Linked DNA regions of Homo sapiens. The protein of the gene in region 6 purifies or fractionates together with the protein of the main gene of each other region. This does not show direct contact. Each region holds a gene or a part of one and is shown on either strand. Other genes may lie near its edges.

What was found.
Region 1: the proteins of PTPN4 (region 6) and GOLIM4 purify together in Homo sapiens (affinity purification with mass spectrometry; one large-scale study listed by BioGRID and IntAct). This does not show direct contact.
Region 2: the proteins of PTPN4 (region 6) and NES purify together in Homo sapiens (co-immunoprecipitation; one large-scale study listed by IntAct). This does not show direct contact.
Region 3: the proteins of PTPN4 (region 6) and PPM1G purify together in Homo sapiens (affinity purification with mass spectrometry, with the first as the bait; one large-scale study listed by BioGRID). This does not show direct contact.
Region 4: the proteins of PTPN4 (region 6) and SVIL purify together in Homo sapiens (co-immunoprecipitation; one large-scale study listed by IntAct). This does not show direct contact.
Region 5: the proteins of PTPN4 (region 6) and SCML1 purify together in Homo sapiens (affinity purification with mass spectrometry; one large-scale study listed by BioGRID and IntAct). This does not show direct contact.
Region 7: the proteins of PTPN4 (region 6) and PPP1R9A purify together in Homo sapiens (co-immunoprecipitation; one large-scale study listed by IntAct). This does not show direct contact.

What each region holds. Positions count from the first base shown.
Region 1 is NC_000003.12:168,022,925-168,026,424, forward strand, and holds part of GOLIM4 (Golgi integral membrane protein 4), read right to left. Parts: intron 2,172-3,500; coding exon 2,004-2,171; intron 1,671-2,003; coding exon 1,602-1,670; intron 1-1,601. UniProt on the Homo sapiens protein: Plays a role in endosome to Golgi protein trafficking; mediates protein transport along the late endosome-bypass pathway from the early endosome to the Golgi.
Region 2 is NC_000001.11:156,671,336-156,674,407, forward strand, and holds part of NES (nestin), read right to left. Parts: intron 2,193-3,072; coding exon 2,119-2,192; intron 1,871-2,118; coding exon 1-1,870. UniProt on the Homo sapiens protein: Required for brain and eye development.
Region 3 is NC_000002.12:27,399,592-27,403,091, forward strand, and holds part of PPM1G (protein phosphatase 1G), read right to left. Parts: intron 1-3,500.
Region 4 is NC_000010.11:29,523,472-29,526,971, reverse strand, and holds part of SVIL (supervillin), read left to right. Parts: coding exon 1-11; intron 12-2,256; coding exon 2,257-2,500; intron 2,501-2,944; coding exon 2,945-3,500.
Region 5 is NC_000023.11:17,750,993-17,754,492, forward strand, and holds part of SCML1 (sex comb on midleg-like protein 1), read left to right. Parts: intron 1-822; coding exon 823-974; intron 975-2,265; coding exon 2,266-2,400; 3' UTR 2,401-3,500. UniProt on the Homo sapiens protein: Putative Polycomb group (PcG) protein. PcG proteins act by forming multiprotein complexes, which are required to maintain the transcriptionally repressive state of homeotic genes throughout development.
Region 6 is NC_000002.12:119,951,922-119,955,421, forward strand, and holds part of PTPN4 (tyrosine-protein phosphatase non-receptor type 4), read left to right. Parts: intron 1-51; coding exon 52-208; intron 209-3,235; coding exon 3,236-3,402; intron 3,403-3,500. UniProt on the Homo sapiens protein: Phosphatase that plays a role in immunity, learning, synaptic plasticity or cell homeostasis. Regulates neuronal cell homeostasis by protecting neurons against apoptosis.
Region 7 is NC_000007.14:95,271,094-95,274,593, reverse strand, and holds part of PPP1R9A (neurabin-1), read right to left. Parts: intron 696-3,500; coding exon 608-695; intron 510-607; coding exon 426-509; intron 1-425. UniProt on the Homo sapiens protein: Binds to actin filaments (F-actin) and shows cross-linking activity. Binds along the sides of the F-actin. May be involved in neurite formation. Inhibits protein phosphatase 1-alpha activity.

The DNA.
Region 1 (3,500 bases), on a different chromosome or scaffold from region 6:
GCTGAGTTTAGGCAGCACTCAGCCAGGGCAACCTCCTCTGTCTTAGCACCATTTCTCCTTTCCTCTTGCCTCTTTCTTCTCTTTCTACTCTTGATTCCTCTTGGATCTCAGGATTTCTCTCCTGTACCTTAACTGATCATAATATAAAATTGAAAAGGAATCAGTAAACACTGGTTAAAATTTTATGTTTAATCTTCTGAATTTTTAAAAAAGAAGCCAAGGTGAACTTTTCTCTTTTAATCCCTCAAAGATTCCTAGTATTGGACATAATAAAACAAAGTGGTATTAGTCTAGACATCCTGTTATATGAGAAGCCTGGATGAATATCTTTTTCTTGCCCAATGTCTTAATATTCAAGGTCACTATTTTCTCTGCTGCTCTCTTTCTGACAAGACAGCCAAGGGTCTTGATTAGGATGAGAAACCAAAGAACAAAAAGATCAAGCCAGTTAAAGTGCATGTTATTAGAAATGTTGCCAGTGACCTTAAAGAGCAACATCCTTTTCTGTTTTCCTGGTATAAGCACAAATTTTATCATCAGCTCTGAAAAGCTTACAAAATCAGTAAGAACAAGAAAGCAGACCTAGTCGAGGGAACTGTGTGTGTGAGAGCACAGCTCATGATTTCTGCACAGGATCTCCAGTGATGGGGTGTGTCTGTTCAGTCTGCCATATGTCCATCCTCCCATGGGGTTCCCCATAGGGATAAAACCACACATTTGCAAGACACCTGGCTGAGAAGCAGCTCTGAACCAGGGTTTTAATTTGGGAACTACTTACTGGTCCATAATGAGACTAAATACAGGGTCTTGGCCTAATTTGTATCAGACTCTTAAATATTGCAGTTGTTTATGCAGCGGAATGCTGTGATAAAACGGCTACAACAAGCAGCATTCACCAATTACACCACATGCAGCACCACAATAATCAACTACACCGTAAGCAGCACCACAATAAACGCTACTTATATCTAATTAACAACAAGATGCCCGAAGTTTACAATGAAAAGCAAACTAAAATATTAAGAAACTCTATCCAAATGCATTTTATTCAGCTGAGCTCTTTACATCTTTTTCCTCCTCTTTTATTGTTAAATTTAATTAAGATACTGAATTCTTAAGAAGGAAGAGGCCAGAAGGAGAGACTGTAAAATTTACAAAAATGTTTGGAGGGTGTTAAGTGGATTCCGATAGACACTATGGGGTATTCCTGTGAGGTAGGCACTGGGGAGATGCCTGAAGAGAAAGTTACAGGGGCAGTCCAGATTCCCTCAATGTGCAGAGGGAGAGAGGAGAAAATATTCTTACAAAAGATTGCACAAATCTAAGTCCACCATTCCTGGAAAGCCAAATGCCTTCTTAATTCAAAATTTCAGGTGAGAACCAAAGAGATGGATTCTATTACCCTGCTTTTGTTATCTTCTAACCAAATGTCTCCAGTGCCATGATCCATTTTTGCTTTAAACCACCCTTTCTTATCCTGCTTAAATTTTTCTGAACATTTCTGTGGAAGGCATGTCAAAGTCAATACTGCTGAGGTTTGTTTAAGGTTAGTGTGTGTGACAGACCAATCTGATCAGTCTCTGGGATTCAATCCTTACTACCTCCTCTTCTGCCTCTTCCTGGTACTGTTCATCAACATTGTCCTCCTGCTGGTCTGGATTTCCTGCCATCTGTTGGAAACAAAAGGGCAGGTTCATGTTACTGTACATCAGAGATGCCTTTTACACAGTACTCTGGGACAAAGAACAAGCATGCCACCATGAAAAGGGCACTTTCAAAGCGTCTGTGGCCAGGAAATGATGAGTAATCATTCCCAATACAAAGCCCAGGATGTCCGTTACCCTCTCTCTCAGAGTACAGGCATATCATGTCATAAAGTGGCCTAAAAACCACCGAAGTGGCAAACCTTCCGTCAATGTGGAATATGACTAACCTTTTACATAAACCAGATGTTTCTTAAAATAGCCCAGTTAAATCCACCCTTCCTCGTGGCATCTGCTTACCACCAAATGTTCCTCCACTTCTGTATTCTCTTGCTTTTGATTACTTTGTTTTTGCTCTTCATTTTCATCTGGCAAATTTTCTTCTCTCACTTGCTCGGCTTCTTCAAATTCATCCTCACCTTGATTATTAGGGTCATCTGCTGGGTTTATATCTTCTACAGCTGCCCTCTGTAAAATTTTAATAAAAAGCAACTATCACTTCAAAACTGAGGATCAAGTTTAATTTCATTTGAAAAGGCTGCCCACTGGCAGAAAATGAAATTGTCCTTCCCTCAATTGTTCAGATCTATCCTTGCCAAGACTCACAAGAATCAAGCATCACACTGTCAAAAGAGAAAACTCCTGCTTTACTTGTCAGAGGCTTGATGAATCAGAATGAGGTTCAAATAGCACTTCTTTCCTGCAAGTGATTTCAAAATAGTTCTCAAAACTCTACTGACACAAGTAATGTGAACAGAACTGAATAAACAAGAAAATAATTAATAAAAGTCAGAGGACCAAGTGACAAAAAAAATACTAATTTAGGTGGGGGATTTAGATGGGCAATTAACTCTTTTTGCTATGTTGATTTTTATAGTAACTTCCCTGTGCAAGCAATTTTTAACATGTCAGCAGGTGAAAAGTTGTTGATGGGAAAGAAGGCCCATACCAGAAAGGACCCATAAAAAGGATACGAAAAGGAGACAAGAAAAAGGCTAATTCAAAAGGAAATGGTCATTTTCTAGTATGGATCCAATTTCTTTATTAACAATCATTCCCATGAAACAGAGAGATGCTGAACTGGCGAGGGATGGGAGTTAAAAAGGGCTGAGCTACCCAACTGCCCAATAGGGCAATATATTATGAAAAATGTCCTCCCAACTCATCTCCCAAATTACTGTGCTCAACAAAGGCCCTTCATATTATCAACTTTAGAATTATTTCAATTTTCCACTTAAGCTCCCAAAGCACCTTCCAAATAATACACATCCTAATAAAGATTTAGATTTTAGAGCCTGAGATGGAGAGGAACAGTGATGCTTGTCATGAGCTTCCCCAATCACTCGCAGGTCATCAATAGGACACTTACTAAGCTGTAAATGCTTCTAAGAGACAGTAAAGCCACAGAGTAGGATTTGGTCTCTATCAGTATTCTCCAGACAAGATTCTACTTCAATTCACTTAGGAGTCTTGAACATGTTTGAGAGTTCACTGCCATCTCAGCTGATCTATTATCTGCACATCCCTGGCCATGAATGTTACTCCAGTGCAAATGACACTATTCTTGGGAACGTAGAGACTACCAAATTACCACCTTCACACTAAACTCTAATTACTCCACAATCTCTTGTCATATGGATTTTCTTTAGTGCACTATCAAAAATTTGTATGGAATTACAGGAAAAATGTAACATATTCTTTTCAGAAAAAAGTACCAAATATCTTTTGCAAACGTTCATAAAATTGACTAGCTCAACTCCGACCACGTAACAGGTATGAATTAGCAGGCACAGTTGT
Region 2 (3,072 bases), on a different chromosome or scaffold from region 6:
CACCTCTGCACATCTGCAGACTGCGGCAGCTCCTGTCCCTCCTCCTCCAGAGACCTCAGTGACTCTTGGTACTCTCCCTTTCCCAGGTTCTCTTCCTCTTCCAGATTCCTTTGACTTTCCTTGTCTACCTCCTCTGGAGATCTCAAATTCTCCAGGTTCCATGCTCCCAGAGATCTCAATGATTCCTGATTCTCCTCTTCCAGGAGTCTGAATGTCTCTTGGTTCACTTCCACAGACTCCAGTGGTTCTTGAATTTCCTTTTCTAGAGGATTCATTGCCCCCTGATTTATTTCTTCTGGAGTCCACAGTGGTGCTTGAGTTTCTGGAGATTTCAGTGTTTCCAGGTTCTCTTGTCCCGCAGACTTCAGTGATTCTAGGATCTCTGTTTCTAAAGATTTTACTGCCTCTACGCTCTCTTCTTTGAGTGACTTTAAGAACTCTTGATTCTCATTTTCAAGAGGTCTAGCTATCTCCTGGTCAAGAGACTTCAGTGGTTCTAGATCCACTTTTTCTGGGGGTCTTAATGTCATCTGATCCTGTTCCCCTAGAGACCTCCGTCGCTGTTGAGTCTCTTTTTCAAGAGTTCTCAATGTCTCTTGGTCCTGTTCTTCTAAAGACCTCAGTGATTTGTGATTCTCTGTTTCTAGAGGTCTCACAATACTCTGGTCCTCTTCTTCTAGAGTCTTCAGTGGCTCCTGGTTCTCTTTTTCTAGAGATCTAAAGGCCTCTTTGTTCTCATCTTCAAGAGACCTCAGGGGTTCCTGATTCTCCTTTGTCAGAGGTCTCAGTGCCTCCTCATCCCCTACTTCTGGAGATCTCAGTGGCTCTTGATTCTCCTTTTCCAGAGCTGTCAATGACTCTAAGTTCTCTTGCAGAGAACTTACTAATTCTTGATTTTCCGTTCCTGGAAATAAAAATGTCTCTAGATTACCTTCAAGAGATTTCATTAGTTCTTGATTCTCCTTTTGCAGGGATTGCAATGTCTGTGTGTCCTCTTTTCCTGTAGGCTTAAGTTGGCCTACAGCCTCTTTTTCTAGAGGTCTCACTACCTCCACATCCTTTAATAGCTCTTTATTTTCCTTTTCTAGACTTTTTAGTGTTTCTAAGTCTTCTTCTAAAGACCTCGGACATTCTTGATTCTCCCTTTCTAGTGTCTCATGGCTCTGGTTTTCCAGAGTCTTCAGTGACTCTTGAATCTCCTCTCCCAGAGACTTCAGGGTTTCTTTTTCCAAAGGAACCTGGGAGTCCTGGATTTCCTTCCTGTTTAGATCCTCTTCTTCCCATATTTCCTGCTGCAAGCTGCTTACCACTTTGCCCTCTATGGCTGTTTCTTTCTCTACCAACCCCCAGATTTGCCCTTCACCTTCCCCTCGGCATATGCTGAACACTCTAGACCCACCGGATTCTCCATCCTTAGCCTCTAAACTGGAGTGGTCAGGGCTGAGGGGTGGTGCCAAGGAGGCATGGTCCTCTGGGGACTGGCCTGTACTGGCCTCTTGCCGCTGGCCCCCAGGCTCCTCTGGTCCAGGCAGGACGCTGGCAGGAATGGCCACCCTGGCTTCAGCCCGCAGGGGCTCTGGAGCCTGTTTCCTCCCACCCTGTGTCTGGAGCAGAGAGAGAGGAGCATCCTGGGCTCTGATCTCTGCATCTACAGCAGGAGAGGGTGCCTGAGGTGTGGGGGGGATGGGGGTGCTGGCCAAGGTAGGGGTACGGGCCTGGAGGAATTCTTGGTTCTTAAGAAAGGCTGGCACAGGTGTCTCAAGGGTAGCAGGCAAGGGTGAGGGGAGGGAAGTTGGGCTCAGGACTGGGAGCAAAGATCCAAGACGCCGGCCCTCTGGGGTCCTAGGGAATTGCAGCTCCAGCTTGGGGTCTGGAAAGGCAGAGGGGGAAGAAACAGCATCAGTATATCACTGGCAATGAGGGGAGCCACAGAGCAGCCACCGCTGGCAAGAGTATCCATGCGCCTGCCCCTGGCGCCCATGGCTGGGCTGAGAGCATGCTCACTGACACTGGAGGCCACGGACTTGAAATTTAGATTGGTGCCTCTCGGGAAAGATAGGTCTGGGTATGAAGAGCAAAGCAGGGTAGTTTCTGGGGGAACTTGGCCCCTCCTCTTACCCTGAAAGCTGAGGGAAGTCTTGGAGCCACCGCCAGGTGTTTGCAGCCGGGAGTTCTCAGCCTCCAGGAGGGTCCTGGAGAGGACAGAGGGAAAGTGGGGTCAGCCCTCTGCCCCCAGGCCTGCAGGCAGCAAGCCAGCTGGGGACAACTCAGGCTGAGCTTGCACCATCCAGGCCCTGCAGGCTTCCTCTTCATTTGACACTGTCACACAAAAGCCACACTCAGGGTGAAATCACACAGTCACATACCCACAGACATCACACACTTGGTCACACAAAGTCACACTGTATTTGGGATACACAGCAGAGCTCAGACATAGAAGCAGATTCCCACACAGTCGGACATTGCCCTACACACACCCACACAAGGCTTAGGCTAGCCTCCTCCTCCCACCCCAGGCCAATGACCTCATCCTCTGTGTGGGGGACCGATTCTCATGCTAATTGCTGCCATTGTCCAAGCCACCATCTGGAGGGTCTGAGAAGGAGAGGATTCTGGGGAAGTGGGAATTCTCAGGCCGTTCCCATGGGATGGGCTCCCTCCTCCTTCCCCGGTGGCCCCCAGAGCTAGCGACAGACAAAAGCAAATGAATTCAGCTCCCCCTCTCCAAATCCTTTTCATGCCTCAAAAAATAGCAGTTAAATTCCTCGGGGCCCACCAGACCCTTCCCCTTGGTGGCTTCACTGGGGGTCAGGGCCCTCATCTCAGGATCTCTAAGCACTCTGGATCCCAAGCTCTTCGGGGCACAGAGGTCTTTGTGTCCAGGCCCCTTCCTCAGCGCCCCTTGAACCAAAGAGGGGAGCAGGGACCAATCAATTCAATAACTTAGGATGAGCAGCTGCTCCTCTCTGCTTTGCTCCATGATCTCTGAGTCTGGTTAGCACTCGCTGTAGCCTCACCTCTGTCCTTGCCAGTGCTGCGGCCTTCCTTCTGGGCTTCTCTTCCCTGGCGGTG
Region 3 (3,500 bases), about 93 Mb from region 6:
TGAATCTGGACAGAGTGAGATTCTGTCTCAAACAAAAAGTTCAAACATCATTAGCCATTTAGCCATCAGAGAAATACAAATCAAAACTACAATGAGATACCATCTCACACCCACCATTAGTTATTATAAAAAAGGTGGATAAGTGTAGTGAACATGTGAAGGAACTGGCATCCTCATATATTGCTGGCAGGAATGTACGACGGTACAGCAACTTTGGAAAACAGTTTAGCAGTTTCTCAAAATGTTAAACACGTAGTTACCATATGACCCAGCACTTCCACTCTTTGGTATATAACCAAGAGATATGAGGACATATTTCCACACAAAAATTTGTACATAGTATCACTATTTATAATAGCAAAAAAAAAAAAAAAAAGTGGAAATCCAAAATGTCTATCAACTAATGAATGGATAAACAAAATGTGACAAATCCATACCATGGAATATTATTCAACCATAAAAAAGAACGAAACACTGATTGATTCATGACACAACATTGATGACCCTTAAAAATATTACGCTTGGCCGGGCGTGGTGGTTCATGCCTGTAATCCCAGCACTTTGGGAGGCCGAGGCAGGCGGATTGCCTGAGCTCAGGAGTTCGAGACCGCCCTGGGCAACACAGCGAAATCTCGTCTCTACTAAAATACACACAAAAAATTTAGCCGGGTGTGATGGTGGGTACCTGTAGTCCCAGCTACTCGGGAGGCTGAGGCAGGAGAATCGCTTTAACCCAGAAGGTGGAGGTTGCAGTGAGCTGAGATCGCATCACTGCACTCCAGCCTGGGCGACAGAGGGAGACCCTGTCCCCAAAAATAAAAAATTAAAATTAAAAAATTATGCTTAGGCACAACTATGATACATCAACTGAAAAATATCAGGCTGGGTGTGGTGACTCATGCCTGTAATTCCAGCACTTTGGGAGGCTGAGGTGAAAAGATTCCTTGAGGCCAGGGGTTCAAGGCCAGCCTGGACAACACAGTAAGACCCTGTCTCCATGAAAATAAATGAATAAACAACAATAATTAAAACTGACCTCCTGGAGATAAGAAAAAGAGTTAACTAGGAGATAAGAGAAAATTCAAGAATTGTTAAGTCATTAATTTGAGATGGAGTTCTGGGTCTTTTGCTTCCCTTCCATCAACTAAGTGAGGAAGGTTCCAACAGAAACAAATGGGAGTGCCTAAAAGAAAACTAGCATCTCTTTCCTGGTTACACAGGCAACAGACTTGGTGATCTGCCTGAGCTCTGTCTATCTGAACAGAAGGAGAGAATTTTAAAAAGTGCCCACTGGAGCCTGAACCATCCTGCTGGTATCCATCCAAAGGAGTCCAGCAGTATGAGGTCAAGGATACACAGCAGGTGGTAAAAGCCACAGAAAAGTCTAAAAACCAAAAGTGGAGATCAAGTCCCTCTGGGCCAGGCCTGGCTATTGCTGCAAACACAGAGATGGTGAGTGATAACTGGATATGAGACTGGAGTTTTAAAGAGATTTCTGATTCTATTAAGCTCTGTAAAATAAAACCTGCAAGGCACTGATCTAGAAAGAAGCAAAAGAACCTTGGGTCAGCAAAATACTTATTCTTAAATCTACTACAACAATGTATGTGTGATTTTTTTAAAAAGAAACTTACAGGCAAAGCTGAGGGGTAGAGGGAATACTTGGGGTGGAGAGTAATTTACTCTTCCAGGGGCCAACAAGCTTTAAAGTCAATTTCAAAAATACACATGCTTAGTAAAAGCATCCAGATATAAAAGGTAGTGTATTTAGAATTCCATTTATAAAATGTTCAGAATAGGCAAATTCATAGAGGTCATGTAAATTAGTGGATGCCAGGGGTTAGTGGACGGAAGATAGGGAGTGACTGGTAAAGAGTACAGGGTTTCTTTTTGGGGTTCTAAAACTGATTGTGGTGACAGTTGTACAACTCTGTTTGAATACACTACAAAACAGGCAGGCACGGTGGCTCATGCCTGTAATCCCAGCACTTTGGGAGGCTGAGGCAGGCAGATCACTTGAGGCCAGGAGTTCGAGACCAGCCTGGGCAACATGGTGAAACCCTGTTTCTACTGAAAATATAAAAATTAGCTGGGTGTGGTGGCGTGAGCCTGTAGTTCCAGCTACTCAGGATGCTGAGGCAAGAGAATTCGCTTGAACCTGGGAGGTGGAGGTTGCAGTGAGCTGAGGCTGCGTCACTGCACTCCAGCCTGGGTAACAGAGCAAGACCCTGTCTCGAAAAAAGAAAAAAAGAAGAAAAAAAAGAAAATATACTAAAAGCCACTGAATTATACCCTTAAAATGAATGAATTATACCCTTAAACCCACTGAATTATACTCTTAAAGTGAGTTCATATACTGTATGGTATATGAACCATATGTGGTATGAACCATACAGTATATGAACTCTATCTCAATAAAGCTGATTAAAAAGGAACCTGTAAGAAATAAATAAAATAAAAAGGAACCTGTATACACATTTTCAAATACTAAATATGATTAAAAGGTGTTGTTTTTCTGCTAGCATTGGGTCAAAAAGGAAAAAAAAGTTGATATACTTCATCTCTGAACTAGATCTAGAAAGAAACAAAAACAACTACACTGAAATCATACTCTGTCTACAAAATGTCATTAAACATCTTAAGCTCAGTTCTAAAGATTTGTTTCCAGATAATACAATGTCAAGAACTACTGATCAGACCTGTATAAATTTCTATGTTCAAATTCAAGCCCTTACCTCTCAAAATTCAATTCTAAGACTAATAACCCAATAGAAGATTAGAGGTTAGGGAAACAGTAGTAACAACTGCTAAGGAATCAGACAATAGAACTTTGTGTAAAATATCCTTGAAATCTTGAGGAATACGTTCTGATTGTATTTTCCAGTTGCTTGAGAACTTATAAGGCAATGGTATAAAATATAAAATAATTTCTAGACCAGGCATGGTGGCTCACACCTGTAATCCCAGCACTTTGGGAGGCCGATGTGGGTGGATCACGAGGTCAGGAATCGAGACCATCCTGGCTAACATGGTGAAACCCCGCCTCTACTAAAAACACACACAAAAAATTAGCCAGGCGTGGTGGCGGGCGCCTGTAGTCCAGCTACGCGGGAGGCTGAGGCAGGAGAATGGCATGAACCCGGGAGGCGGAGCTTGCAGTAGCTGAGACCGCGCAACTGCACTCCAGCCTGGGTGACAGTGTAAGACTCCATCTCAATAAATAAATAAATAAATAAATAAATAAATAAATAAATAAATAAATAAAATAAACATAAATAAAATTCCTCAGCCTGGGCAACACTGCAAGGCCCTATCTCTACAAAAAAAAACTTAAAAAAAAAAAATTAGCCAGTCATGGTGGCATGTGCCTATATTAGGCTGAGGCTGGAAGACCCCTTGAGCCCAGAAGGCTATGCAGTGAACTATGATCGAGCCACTGTAAAGGCAGATAAGTGTAGTGAGGATGTGAAGGAACCGGCACAAGAAATCCCATACTCCTT
Region 4 (3,500 bases), on a different chromosome or scaffold from region 6:
CAGCCTGCCAGGTACTGGACAGATACAGATGCATGCGGCACCCGGTGCAAAGGTGCCGAACAGCAGATGCATCCTAAAGTCTTGAATGTCTGTCGTTTGTTTGACAAACAAGTCAATGCCGTGAGTTGTTCCAGAATGCGTGGCATTTTGTTTTGTCATAGCACAAGGTGCTGATAACCACATGCTGGCGTGCGTGGGAAAACATTTTGTCTCTCTGCATATGTTATGTGTTAGAACTAGGATCACACTAACTCACGTATCCAGTTGCTTTGTTTGTTTTTCATAATAATGGTCATCCCTCAAAAATTTTGTTCTTCATCTAAATACTGTTATAGCACTTAATAAAGATTAATAGAAAAATGGGACATTGGCCAGGCGCGGTGGCTCATGCCTGTAATCCCAGCACTTTGAGAGGCCAAGGCAGGTGGATCACGAGGTCAGGAGATTGAGACCGTCCTGGCCAACATGGTGAAACCCTGTCTCTACTAAAAATACAAAAATTAGCTGGGCATGGTGGCATGTGCCAGTAATCCTAGCTACTTGGGAGACTGAGGCAGGAGAATCGCTTGAACCTGGGAGGCAGAGGTTGCAGTGAGTCAAGATCGTGCCACTGCACTCCCGCCTGGTGACAGAGCAAGACTCTGTCTCAAAAAAAAAAAAAAAAAAGAAAGAGAAAAAAAGAAAGAAAAAAAAAGAAAAATGAGACATTAACCTGAATGTTGAAATGCTGATAAGACCCAGTCTTTTTCAAACACCTGTAGACACAAATACAGACTGAAAACAATCCTCCCTCTTTCTAATTTATAGAGTCAATGCCATTATATTTTGGGACTGGGAAAATAACAATTTGTAGTGTCTAAACGTAGATGTTTTACTGTCGTGTTTCAGATTGTGGTGCTTTAAAATTATGTCCTCACATCAGGTCATATCCCTTCATTTTACTGTTATATGAGCCAAACCGCAAAAGCTAAAAATAATGGCAGTGCCGGGATAAAGCTGGTACACCCACAGCAGGGCCCTCCCGGAGAAGTGGGTTTCCCTGCCCTCCTGGTTACTGCACGAGGTCCACGGAGGACTCTGAGGCTCAGGTGGCTTTTTTGTCACTGGCCTCATTATACACCTGGAATATGGAAGCTGGCTACTCTTTGGCCTGGGATAGCCTGTGCATTGGGGATTCACTAGAATCAAGGCAGAATATCTCCTTTACTAGATCTGACAATTGGATCGGTCAGGGACAGAAGATATAGTGCATTACAAACCCCTAGAGATTCATATTGACCGTGAAGACTTCAGGCTTTCCTTCTCTTCTAGCTGGAAGTTGGAGGGAGCTATTTATTTATTTACTGATTTATGTATTCATTCATTTATTTTTGAGACAGAGTCTTGCTCTGTCGCCCAGGCTTCATCACTGCACACTGCAGCCTCTACCTCACAGGCTCAAGCGATCCTCCCACCTCAGCCTCCTGAGTAGCTGGGATCACAGGTGCACACCACCAAGCCTGGCTAATTTTTATATTTTTTGTAGAGATGGGGTTTCACGATGTTGCCCAGGCTAGTCTCCAACTCCTAAATTCAAGTGATCCTCTTGCCTTGGCCTTCCATAGATATGAGCCACCAGACCTGGCCAGTTGGAGGGATTTATAATCACCTGAAATTTTCTTTACTCCTCTGGTTACTGGAAATTGCAGATTTAAGTACCTTTTAGAAAACTGGTAGGAACCTATGAGAGTAAATGCTAAGCTGAAGCAGTGACTCTTTAAAAATTAAGCCATTTGTCTTTAGCAAGTAAAAATCAAGACCTTCTGTTATGTTGTTGACAGAGGACTATATCGTTTCCTAATTATTTAAAATGAAAGACCACCTTCTGAACCATATCTTTAGATAAGGTCTAAATACACCGTAGGTAATACTTTGTGACTCCCTTTCATTCTACTTATTACGATACTAACAATGCCGCCTCTCTGTCTAAGATAAGGTATAGCCAAGCTGACTTCAATGTCTTAAACAGGAAATTCGTTTTGTAGAAATAATTCGGAGCTCAAAGTCTGCTCTTTGTAGAAGTGATGATGCTAAGTGTCCTGTGCCGACTCTGCTTGTTGAGTAGCTGAACAGCTGCCTGCCTCTGTCCTAGACGTGCTTAGGGAAAAAGAAGCCCTTTGCAAAATGATGTGACACTTGGCAGAAAGTTAACGTAGAAACTTAGCGGTGTGCTTTTGTTTGTTGGTATATGTGTTGCTGACATTTTATTTTTTTCAGATTGCAGGCCTCTGCTCACCAAAAGGCCTTAGCCAAGGACCAGACAAATGAGGGCAAAGAGCTTGCTGAGCAAGGAGAACCTGATTCCTCCACTCTAAGCTTGGCCGAAAAGTTGGCCTTGTTTAACAAATTGTCCCAGCCAGTCTCAAAAGCGATTTCTACCCGGAACAGAATAGACACGAGACAGAGGAGAATGAACGCTCGCTATCAAACTCAGCCAGTCACACTGGGAGAGGTGGAGCAGGTGGGTGTGCTATAGTCCGATTGCAGTTTGTGTGTGTGTGTTCTTAAATTATAGCACTGCAGTATTCCTCTGAGGTCAATGATGTAATTAAGGTGCTCTACCAGGAAACTGCTACCTGTAGGTGATTTGGTAATAGCTTTCTTCCTAAAAATGAGAATTCTACCAAGTATGTTGCTCTTTTTTTGTTTTCATACCTTGCTTGCTGAAATATCTAGAATGAGTCCATTTTGGAGAGAAAAAAATAGTATGCCCAACTGTGTTTCACCCAGAGGATTTTGTTTAATGAGACGTATTATATAACTATGTCCAGGAATGGTTTTCCACTAAGAGAAACAGTGAAACTGCATCAAATCGAGTATTTCAGCTTCTGTCAATTCATAAACCAGGATTTATATAGATGATATTTTTCAAGCAGCTTTTTAATTTTTAACTGTGTCCTTCCAGGTGCAGAGTGGAAAGCTCATTCCTTTCTCACCTGCCGTGAACACATCAGTGTCTACCGTAGCATCCACGGTTGCTCCAATGTATGCCGGAGATCTTCGCACAAAGCCACCTCTTGACCACAATGCAAGTGCCACTGACTATAAGTTTTCTTCTTCAATAGAAAATTCGGACTCTCCAGTTAGAAGCATTCTGAAATCGCAAGCTTGGCAGCCTTTGGTAGAGGGTAGCGAGAACAAGGGAATGTTGAGAGAATATGGAGAGACAGAAAGCAAGAGAGCTTTGACAGGTCGAGACAGTGGGATGGAGAAGTATGGGTCCTTTGAGGAAGCAGAAGCATCCTACCCCATCCTGAACCGAGCCAGGGAAGGAGACAGCCATAAGGAATCTAAATATGCTGTTCCCAGAAGAGGAAGCCTGGAACGGGCGAACCCTCCCATCACCCACCTCGGGGATGAACCGAAGGAATTTTCCATGGCTAAAATGAATGCACAAGGAAACTTGGACTTGAGGGACAGGCTGCCCTTTGAAGAGAAGGTGGAGGTGGAGAATGTTATGA
Region 5 (3,500 bases), on a different chromosome or scaffold from region 6:
GCATAGCTAAAACTTTCTGAAGTATGAGCAGTTAAACTGTCTCATATCTCAGTTATTTTTTAAACATATAAACCTTTGACCAAAATCTCTATTACTATGCAATTAAACATGAAAGAGGAATTAAATAAAATGTTAGTTACTTCTGACCTAGTTCAGCAGAAAATAATCTTGTTTTCTTCACAATGCACATTAGCACTTAAGCCACGAGAGACAGGAATCTAAAAAGTAAAGCGATACTAAAAATAACCTTATTGAATACGTGGGGAAGATTTGATAAAAGTACTAATTTGGTTCTTAAAGATAATGGGGTTGTTATTGAGATTCATTGATTAAAAGGAACAAATTTAAGCAATTATAAAACTGTAAATTTGGAGAATTTCCATTATATTTTGCTAGTAAAATTAACCTAATCTAGATAGATTAAGAGAGAAATTCCTTGAAATACTTGAAGAGAGTCATAGGTTAGGTTAGATTAACCTAATTTTACCCAAGTGACAGATCTTTTGCCATATTTGCCTGTGGCCAAAGAAGACTTGGTTTACTTAGTCTGTTTTGTGATCTTTGAAACTTTAATGTAACTTCTGAACCAGCTTTTGCTATTTAGGGGAGGTCAGATGGGACACTCTTGTGTAGGCATCCCCACATCATCTTTATATAGGCTTTCACTAGATTTTACAGTTGGAGTCTTGACTCCTTGCTAGGAACATCACAGAAGGTTCCAACAAAGAGAGCATTCCTCCTTACCTAACATCTCTTCTTTCAGGATAATGATCAGGTCGAGTGTGATTTGTCTTTTTTTTCTTTTCCCCCTCTCCATTGAAGTTACAAGGTCACCAGTTGAAAATGACGGTTACATAGAGGAAGGAAGCATCACTAAGCACCCTTCAACCTGGTCGGTGGAAGCAGTGGTCCTATTTCTAAAACAAACAGATCCTCTTGCATTATGCCCTCTTGTCGACCTCTTCAGAAGCCATGTAATGTATCTTTTGATCCTGTTTTCCTGCTGTAATGCCTTTGAATGACCTCTGTGCAGGTCTTTCAGTTGGATACTGTGTGAATGGTGGGAGAACCCTATTAGCTGATTTTTCCATATATGAGAAAGCTTATTTTGCCCAAGGTTAGCCTTAAATGGTAGGCTAATGGTCTGTTCTTTAAATGGGTGTAGAAGTGCCTAAAATACAAACTGCCTCAGCTTCTTAAGACATGATGATTCAGCATGGCCACTCAGGTGTACCTCCCCTTTGTAATGACAGATACAAAGATCCTCCCCCTATCTGCTCCCAGCTGGGCACCAGGACCACGAGGAGGAGGGGGTAACCACAAGCTATAACAGGGTGGCCTTCGTTTTATATAACCAGTGATTCAACAACTGATTCCATTTGCCTCGATTATTGATGATTTGTAATGCTAATACCCTCTTGCTATTATCAGACCATTTACAAAGTAATATCCTAGGCCGAAGTTTTGTAAGTTCTAGTTTCTTTAATTTTGAGTTTTACTTAGTAGAAAAAGTATAGAAGGTGCCAAACAAAGGTTGTACTATAAGGGATTTCAGACCTTTTCAGATAGTGTTAAATGAGTAAATAAAATTTTATTTTTTAACTGGAACATATAAAACCAAATCATATGCTTCAGCAGCATAAGTTGATCAATTAAGATAAGGAATTTTAGGAGAATGCTTTGTGACTATGTTTTATTTATTCAGATATTTTCACAGTGTGTCCTAACAAAATTAGTAGCCACATATCTGATTTTTAATATAGTAAGAAAATTGGTGATTAGTTTTAGCATCTAATTAGTTTCAGACAACTAATTGGCATTCATCATAAAGACAACATTGTATAGACATTTACAGTTTGCACTGATGTTGACGTACTCATCTTCCCAGCCCTTCTCAGAAAGTTAATGAACATCTGAAATTCATTTTTACTATTCATAGTCTTTACTATTTTGTCATGGATGTGTAGTATTTTATTCAACATACAGTATATATTTAAAATTAAGTTTGACACAGTTTATTTTTTAAGATATTATGTTAAATTTCCTTTTTCTCAGAACTTGAAATGAGTTTATACATTACCAAACGGTGCTTCACTGTACAAGTTATATTTTTAATAGTTTTCATAAAGTAGACGCATATTCAGAGAATATACATCTGCAATGAGCTGCTCTCTAGTTTGCTTTACATGTTCTCATAAAGAACTAACCATTCTGATGAAAATATGGAAGCATTATTAATTATCGTTAAGTTTCTTCTCTCCATAGGAAATTGACGGGAAGGCTCTGCTCCTACTCACGAGTGACGTGTTGCTGAAGCACTTGGGGGTGAAGCTGGGAACGGCTGTGAAGCTATGCTACTACATTGACCGACTTAAACAAGGAAAATGCTTTGAAAATTGAAAAAATCCTTGTGCAAATTTAGATTGGGCCAACTTCTAGAGGCACCAATGCCTTCTTAGTGTGGAATCATTTTTCTGCCCTTTAGTCGTTTTTGTTTTGTAGAAAGTATCTCTCAAAATATATTATAGCTAGAATTGTAGAACTATGTTATAGTCCAGTCTACTTCTTTAAAAACCATTTAAACTGCTAGATAGTATTAGAATAGTCCAATAGAAAATTCATTCTTTATAGGTCTTTAAAAATTACTTTTATTATATTGTTTACAAATATATTTCATGCAAGAAACAGAAAAAAAAAAAAACCCTTTGATTCTGGTTCATCTCGATACAGAGAACCAAAACAGCTAAGAGAGGTATTATCAGGGTTGACAACTCCTATGATTGAATCTATGGGAATTATTCCTCAGAAGAGAATTTAAAGGTGTACCCATATATATCTCTTTCTGGAGTATTTTATCTGTCTGATGTTGCAGTATTCTACAAGTTTCCAGAAAGAGAATAGCCATATAAATTATTTTCCTTTCTGCTATTATTTCTCTATATGTTTTATTTATTCAGATTTAGAGTAAAAAATAAGCATATAAACTTTTATTATGTGCTCTTAACAGTTTTAAGATAAACTATAGGATAGATAGAATGGTTATTTTATGCAAGAAATATTGTACCGCAAGGGTGGTTTGGATGAAGTCTGACTACTTTTTTTCAAACAAACTATTATATTAAAACTGTCATATTTTGGCTAAGTTTGGACCTATAACTACACTTTCATTGTTTGCATCTCTCTATGAAGATACGTCTGTCCAAACTTTTAAAAGGCATAACTGTATTTTATGTGTTTATTCTTTATATAGATAGTATTTTATATTTTATTCTCACCCGAAGTATTCACACAATCTTTTTAAAAAAAATTTGAAATGGCATTTTGTATTGCCACAGAGGTAGGATGAGCCATATATTAGTGAAATGTTTTATTTTGTAAAATATAAATGGATTATTTGCCATCATTAGTACCTCTCAACTTACTTTTTAGAGGACAAGAAACAATCTGTAGATTGGTTTCCATACAGGGAAGTTCTCCGTCCTATGCAATGTTTCTAATTA
Region 6 (3,500 bases):
CTTTCAGAAAGTTGCATGCCAATCTGAAACCTTATCTATATTATATTACAGGCTGACCTCTGTGTCCCTAGACTGAATGAAGGGGACCAAGTTGTACTGATCAATGGTCGGGACATTGCAGAACACACTCATGATCAGGTTGTGCTGTTTATTAAAGCTAGTTGTGAGAGACATTCTGGGGAACTCATGCTTCTAGTTCGACCTAATGGTGAGTACTCTATGTAGTACCAGATAATTTATAGTAATTTATTACTGTTCATTACTGAGCACAGCAGCCAGATTTCTGACATAAAACATAAGTCACCTAAGTTTCCTGCTCAAAGCACAGTGGCTTTCATTGACACGTGGAGCAGAATTCAAGTTCTTTGCCCCCCCACCCCTTGCTCCCACTCAGCCTTGCTTACTTTCCTCTATTCTACACTAGCTTTCTTGCAGTTACTCAGATCTTCCAATCTAATCGACTTATTAGGGTTTTTATCCTTGCTGTTCCCTGTGCTGACATACTCTTTTTGATTTTGTTATGACTTATACCTATACTTCATTCAGGTCTCTGCTCAGATATCATCTTCAGAAGGGCTTTCTCTCCTGACTACCATAGCTAAAATGGTCTCCCATTTCCCCTAAATGGTAATAGTTGTAGTACTAGTACTCAATAAATACTAGTTGAATGAATGAGTAAATTTGAACTCTGTTCCACTTTTAGAAAATGCCATAACAAGCTATAGTTAAAGTGTTTTTAAAATACTGCCTTTGTTTTCAGTATATGATGTCTACTTGCCTAATCATGTCATCTCCCAATCTGGACAGCTGACTTGTTAATTCATAGTCATAGAATTCCAGGTTTGGAGAAAACTTGAATGCCGTAAGCTCTAGCTCTTTGGCTAATTGCACGAATTTCCTCCACAACAACCTCAAGAACATTCTACCAATATAGATAGAGCACTTTGTGGCTCCTGAAACAGGTCATTCCATCTTTGGATAGCTCAAACTATAAATTGAACTAAAAGTCCATCTTTCTTCAGTCCTGCTCCTAAGTCTGTCACTCTGTGCTATGCATTATAAGTTTAACCCCCTTTCCTTCAGTTTTTTGACAATAGCTAATTTTACCAGAAACCCACCTCCCTTTCTCCAGTTTAAGAGTCCTAGAGTCTTCAGCCAGTGTTCATATGGCATTGTTTAGAGTTCCCTCAACACTTTATCAGTCTGCTCTAAGAAAAAAGTTTTATATGTCTAATATCCCAGGATTAGACATATTCTTCTGGTTTTGTTCTATACAATTTACTATTAATCATTATTTTAGCCACAGAATAATTATTGTTAATGCCATATTACCACTTGAATATGTACCATAGGAAAGTGAAATATCATTCGAATTCTACTTGTCACCACCACACCCAACCCTGCAAAATTTTGCAAGGATATTTCTTTTTTGTAAACAAAAAATAAAAAATCCTCTTTGTACCTCTTGTTCACAAATAGGCGTTTTCATTTTATCTTCTCCACTTTGTGTTCTTTTCCATTAATGGTCTAGAATTGGCTTTCTAGGAAGATTAAAAGGACTTCAACAGAACATTCTATTTTGACTTTTCAAGGAACTTGTTCATTTAGACTTGATACTTAGGTGAGTCATTAGGTGTTTTCTGTCACATACAGCTACTTAAATTTTAAACCAGGAATAACATTTTTTTCTGTATTTATTGTATTATATTTTCTCTTGATAATAGATCCTAAAGAACTCAATAATATTAGCTAATAGTTATTAAAAACTTTCTGTGCACCTAGGCTCTTTTGTATATTTTCATTTAATCCTCATAGACATCCAATGAGATTGATGAATTATCCCCATTCTAGAGCTGAAGATACTTTGACACCAAGACATTCAGTTACCTGCTCACAGATTCATGACGCCACAGAGCCAGAATATGAACAAAAATCCATATGATGGCAAAGACCCAGCCTTTTTACAATTCCAGATCTCATCCTTTTGCTTTATAGTATGAGAGGAACCCACCAGGGTCTACTTCTTGCAAAATATCTTTCTAAATTGTTTCATAGTCAAAATACGGAGCAGAACCTGCATCTGTTTTCAGTGTGGGTCTGTCTTTTCCATTCTTAAAGTTTCATATAATTAAAATTTAAAACTGTGTTTGCCAAGAATATATTTTTGTTTTTCTGATCTTTTCTCCTTTAATTCTTATTTCTTCTTAGGCAAAATGTTGTCATACCTTTTTGTCTTTTCATTCTTCATTTCAGAAATTTATTTTTCTAAAAAAATGTATAGATATTCAAGGAGGAACCAGATCTCTTAGGCAAGGGTAAAGAGGCCCCTACCTTGGCTCCATGTTTTAGAAGGCCCTGCTTTGGCTCTCTTTCTTCTCCCAGTGGAGTCATAATTTTATAGGACCAAAAGGACATGCCAAGCTGTAACCTCCCTTCCCTTTCTATACCACTTTTTTTCAAACCTCAGTTCTGGGTCCAGATAACCCTGAGCCTCTCCAGATCTTCATGGGTATTTTCCACACATCCGTTCTCTCAAGGTGGGTTCACATGGTGTGTGTATCCTAGCCCAGAAGGTGGCTAAGAGGCTACAGTTTGTGGAGGGACAGGTATAGATATATCTTGCATGTGGGCTGGGATCTTCACATGTATGTTTATAAGCCCCTATGTTAAAAAATGGGACTGAGAGTGGGTAACGGTAGAATACAGGCCTAGGATCTAGGGTCTGAATCTCCTCACATTACCATGACCATGAATTCTGGCCTAGAATTCTCATTTATAGTCTGGCCTCCCAGGTTGTTTTGTAGATACATCACAGAAAGAGGATGAAGCATATTTTGTTTAGCACTGTGTTCAAGTTTTTTGTAACTTCTCATAGTTAAACATATGGTATATAGGTCTCTATTTGTACTCTTGCCCTAGGTCCCCTACAAATTAAGAGCGGGTGTATTCACAGCTGCTTCTCAGCAGCTCTTCTTTCTTACTGTCTCTTCAAGTTATAGACATTTTCAGCAATGTAGCCAAGAACACTTCTTCCCTCCAAAGGTACAGCAAAGCCCCTCAACTCCACAACTAGTTTCTGTCCCCCCATAGTGACACCAGACTCAGATCTGGTGTAATTCTTCACAAATGAATTATTTTTTGAACAAAACATTATACAGTGTATCTGGTAAATTCCTATCGTGTGAATTCATTAAGATTTCCACGTTTTGGGGTTTGTTTGATTTTTTTTTTTTAGCTGTATATGATGTAGTGGAAGAAAAGCTAGAAAATGAGCCAGATTTCCAGTATATTCCTGAGAAAGCCCCACTAGATAGTGTGCATCAGGATGACCATTCCCTGCGGGAGTCAATGATCCAGCTAGCTGAGGGGCTTATCACTGGAACAGTCCTGACACAGTTTGATGTAAGTAATATCATTATATATTAAAAGCATTTTGCTGATATTTGCTAACTAGTTTCATAGTTTCTTAAGTGCCTAATCTGTGCATTATAATTTCTAAA
Region 7 (3,500 bases), on a different chromosome or scaffold from region 6:
TGGACAAGACAATCTTGAATGTCAACAAGGTACTTAAATGCAAAATGATTATCCTTTTAGACTTAATACAATGCACTAGCATTGTGGGTAGCCAGGCAAAAAATCTGAAGTATCACATAAATATATTTGATATTTCTGAAGTATCACATAGATATATTTGTGCTGAATTTAGATAAACACTTATTGAAATGGTTCATGTGGCCATAATTCTGCAATTAAGAACCAATGGATATGCCCAAGGCTAGATGGAGGCTATAATTGGAGTAAGACCAATATAAACTAATTGTGCAATTTTTCTTCCATCTCAATTCTTGGCATATCACTTTAGCTCAAAGATACTGACCACTGATTTTGGTTAACAATAGAAGAGGGGGCCAGAAAGTTTAGGTATAGAAATACACGTGTTCTTAATCACACAACCGTACCTGCTACCTGCAGAAAACCTACTGGCTTCTTTTTCTTTTTCTTTCCACTTCTTTCCCTTGCTGGAATTCCTTCGCAAAGGCGCCCTGTAATGATAGTAAGCAGTCAGAAAGGGGAAGCTGAAATTTTCTCTTTCAATCCTCCTTTTACAGAGGGCTTTCTTTTTACATCGTGAAGTGCTTACCCCAGATCCACAAACTTCCGCTTAATTTTTCCTCCTTGCACCGCCAATGAACTGGATGCCCTTAGTGATTTGGGATCTTTGGCATCATCTAGGATATACACATTTGTGAAAAAGATCAATTATTATTATTTTTAAAGTCACAATTCAAAAGTCAATGCATCTCTGAATCTAAGGGCTTTGCCTAAATTCCTAATTGTAAAATAAATAATCAATGCCTTCTTATACGACCTAGGAGACACAGTTACATTGAGGAACTCGCAGTTAAGCAGGGGAGGTCCTCTATAGGACAGAGGCTCAACATTCATCACAAAGAGTTTTAGCTTCAACTGCATGGGAATGAACAAGGGAGAATAAATACTCTCAAATCATCCTCTGCATTCGAAGTAGGGACCAACATGACTTTTGTTCCTTCTCTGGCTCCAAATTCTTGGCTTCAAGTGCCTGGGCTCTGTCCTCCATTCCTTTCTTGCCTTGGGGTTGTAGTGCCTTCTAACAGGAACATAGCCCACTTCTCCCGTATCTCCAAAGCCCAGCGCAGAATATCACCTCTGAGAGTCTGGGAGATTTAGGGGGAAAGTCAGAGTCAAAGTTTTCTTCTCTGGCTCTCCTTTGCTAATGGCCTGTGGCCGGTCCTGGAACAGAGGAGGGGAGGACATGGGGGAGACTCCTTAAACAGGGGCTCAGCTACAAAACATTTATATCTTTGAAAGGGCCTTCTTAATAGTTAGGTTACAGCAAAACTTGGCTGGTTCCCCTTAATGTGGAAGATGCCAAAATCTCCTCAGTGTTCAGAGCAGACTGATCTTTGCCTCTAGGACTCTCAAAGGTAGCAGCTGCTGGGGAATGGGGACCCTCGAAATGATACCAAAAGCCAATAGGAAGACAGGCTTTGCAAATGGAGTTCAATGTCAAGGTGGGAACCAATTCCACTGGTGGCACTTGTTCCATCTCGGACAGGCTCTACCCAAACTATTCAGCAGAGGGTACTGATCGGCATCACGTTTCAGCATATCCAATTAGCTCAGATGATTAACAAATGCTGTTTTAAATTTGATGTTTTTTATGTGTGAAACTCTTCCTCCCCAGTTCTTTTTTGGTATCTGTTTTTCTGTCTCTTATCTTTTAAAATGTGTTTTAAATTTCTAGGAACTTTCTAGTATGGAAGGCAAAGAGAATGGCCCTCTTAAAAAAGTGTTCAATTAACTTTGCAGGTTAATGTTGCTCATGATTTTTGTTTACTTCAAGAGAAATTTCTCAACACACATCGACATACACCTTTAAAAAACATGAAGTACACACACAGTTCATGGATAGCAGTCTAGGTTCAAAGCTCTCAAGCAGCACAGGACACTGACAAATACTCCAAATGTTTTTAGCAATGAGCTTTTCATATTTTTAGTTAATGATACTTAGATTACAATAAGCAACTCACTGAAATGTACATAATGAAACACAAGAGTCAGAAATATGTCTGTGTCAAAAATCCACTTCAAGCCTCAAATATTTATTATGCATATTTGCATCATTACTCTTTGGGTAACTGAATTGTCACAGATGTGACACAATCATATAAAAAAATCCATAGACATAGACATGGCACAAACACCTTCTAAGGTGATTTTACTAATGGATTTTATTTTTAAAAGCAAGATTTAAATTTTCTTAATAGAAGCTGAAGAAAAGAAAGTGCCAAATTCTTCCAGATCAATCCTAAAGCAACTCTTAATGGCTAGGACTATGCAAAGTTAAAAGGAGACTGCCTAATTATTTCCTGAATGAGAGGTAGCTGGGAGATGTTACAATGAGCGCTGAGAAGACCAGCTGAGGCAATGTACACGAAAACACTCTGTAACCCATGAGTGTTGCAGTTATTTGGACATCATGCGACTAAAAGCCTGATTCTGCCTATCACAGAGCTTGGTGCTAGGCAACCTTACATCTTTATCTCACACATTTGCCAAAGTGCGTTCCCAGGAACACTGAAATGAATGCTTCCATAGGGCTGAAGATGTTAAGAATAAGGAATAATGTACTTTCCCATTTAAAATCGATTAAATCCATCTTTAATGCACACTAGAACTTCTAGTCTGCATAAAATCCAACATTAGATTGGTATGATTTCAGGAAAAAAGAAACATACATTTTGTTTATTTAGCTCTACGTAAGACTTCTGTTAGGCTTTTTAAAATCTCTCCAATACTACCTTTGTGACCAATTATACATCTGAGCCCCCAGATTGGGTGCCTCAACTTTAAGCTGTGGCAACCTGGTTTTCATTTTCAAATAATAAATGATCTCCTGATGGCCAAATCCTAAGGTCTTGTACTGGACTGCATCTCCTTAATCTCACTGTAATAAGATACTTGACTATCTCTTCCTTTATAATGGGGACTCCCAAATCTACCTGGCAGTCCTGACCTCTCTCTTGCGCTCATGACCTCCTCTGTTAAAAAAATGAGTTAATCCTATTTCCCCCATCATGTTGCTGATTTCCTATTTTCTGTTAATGACAAGACCATATGTTCTGAGGCGTGAAGCCCATGATAGTTTTGCCTCACTTTCTTACCTGTTACCTAGTCAAGGTATGTCTCAAGGGTCCTTGAATCATTCTTTCCTGTCACTGTCTACTGCTCCTCTTTAGAGGGCACCACCTCATAGGGTCTCCTAACTCAGCTTCTCCATACCTGGTGGTGTCTTTTCCTTTTTATTCCTCTGGTCAAACTTCTTGTGGTTTCCTAGTAATATGGCAAGTTATCTAAGATGTTTAACTTCTAAAGCTATATACTTAACCTACTGGCTCACTTTTGTGTGTAACTACTCCACCCTGCATAAGCAAACTGCTACAGCCAGGCTGGGATAGCCTTGTACCTTTAAATCATATGATATGTGCCTG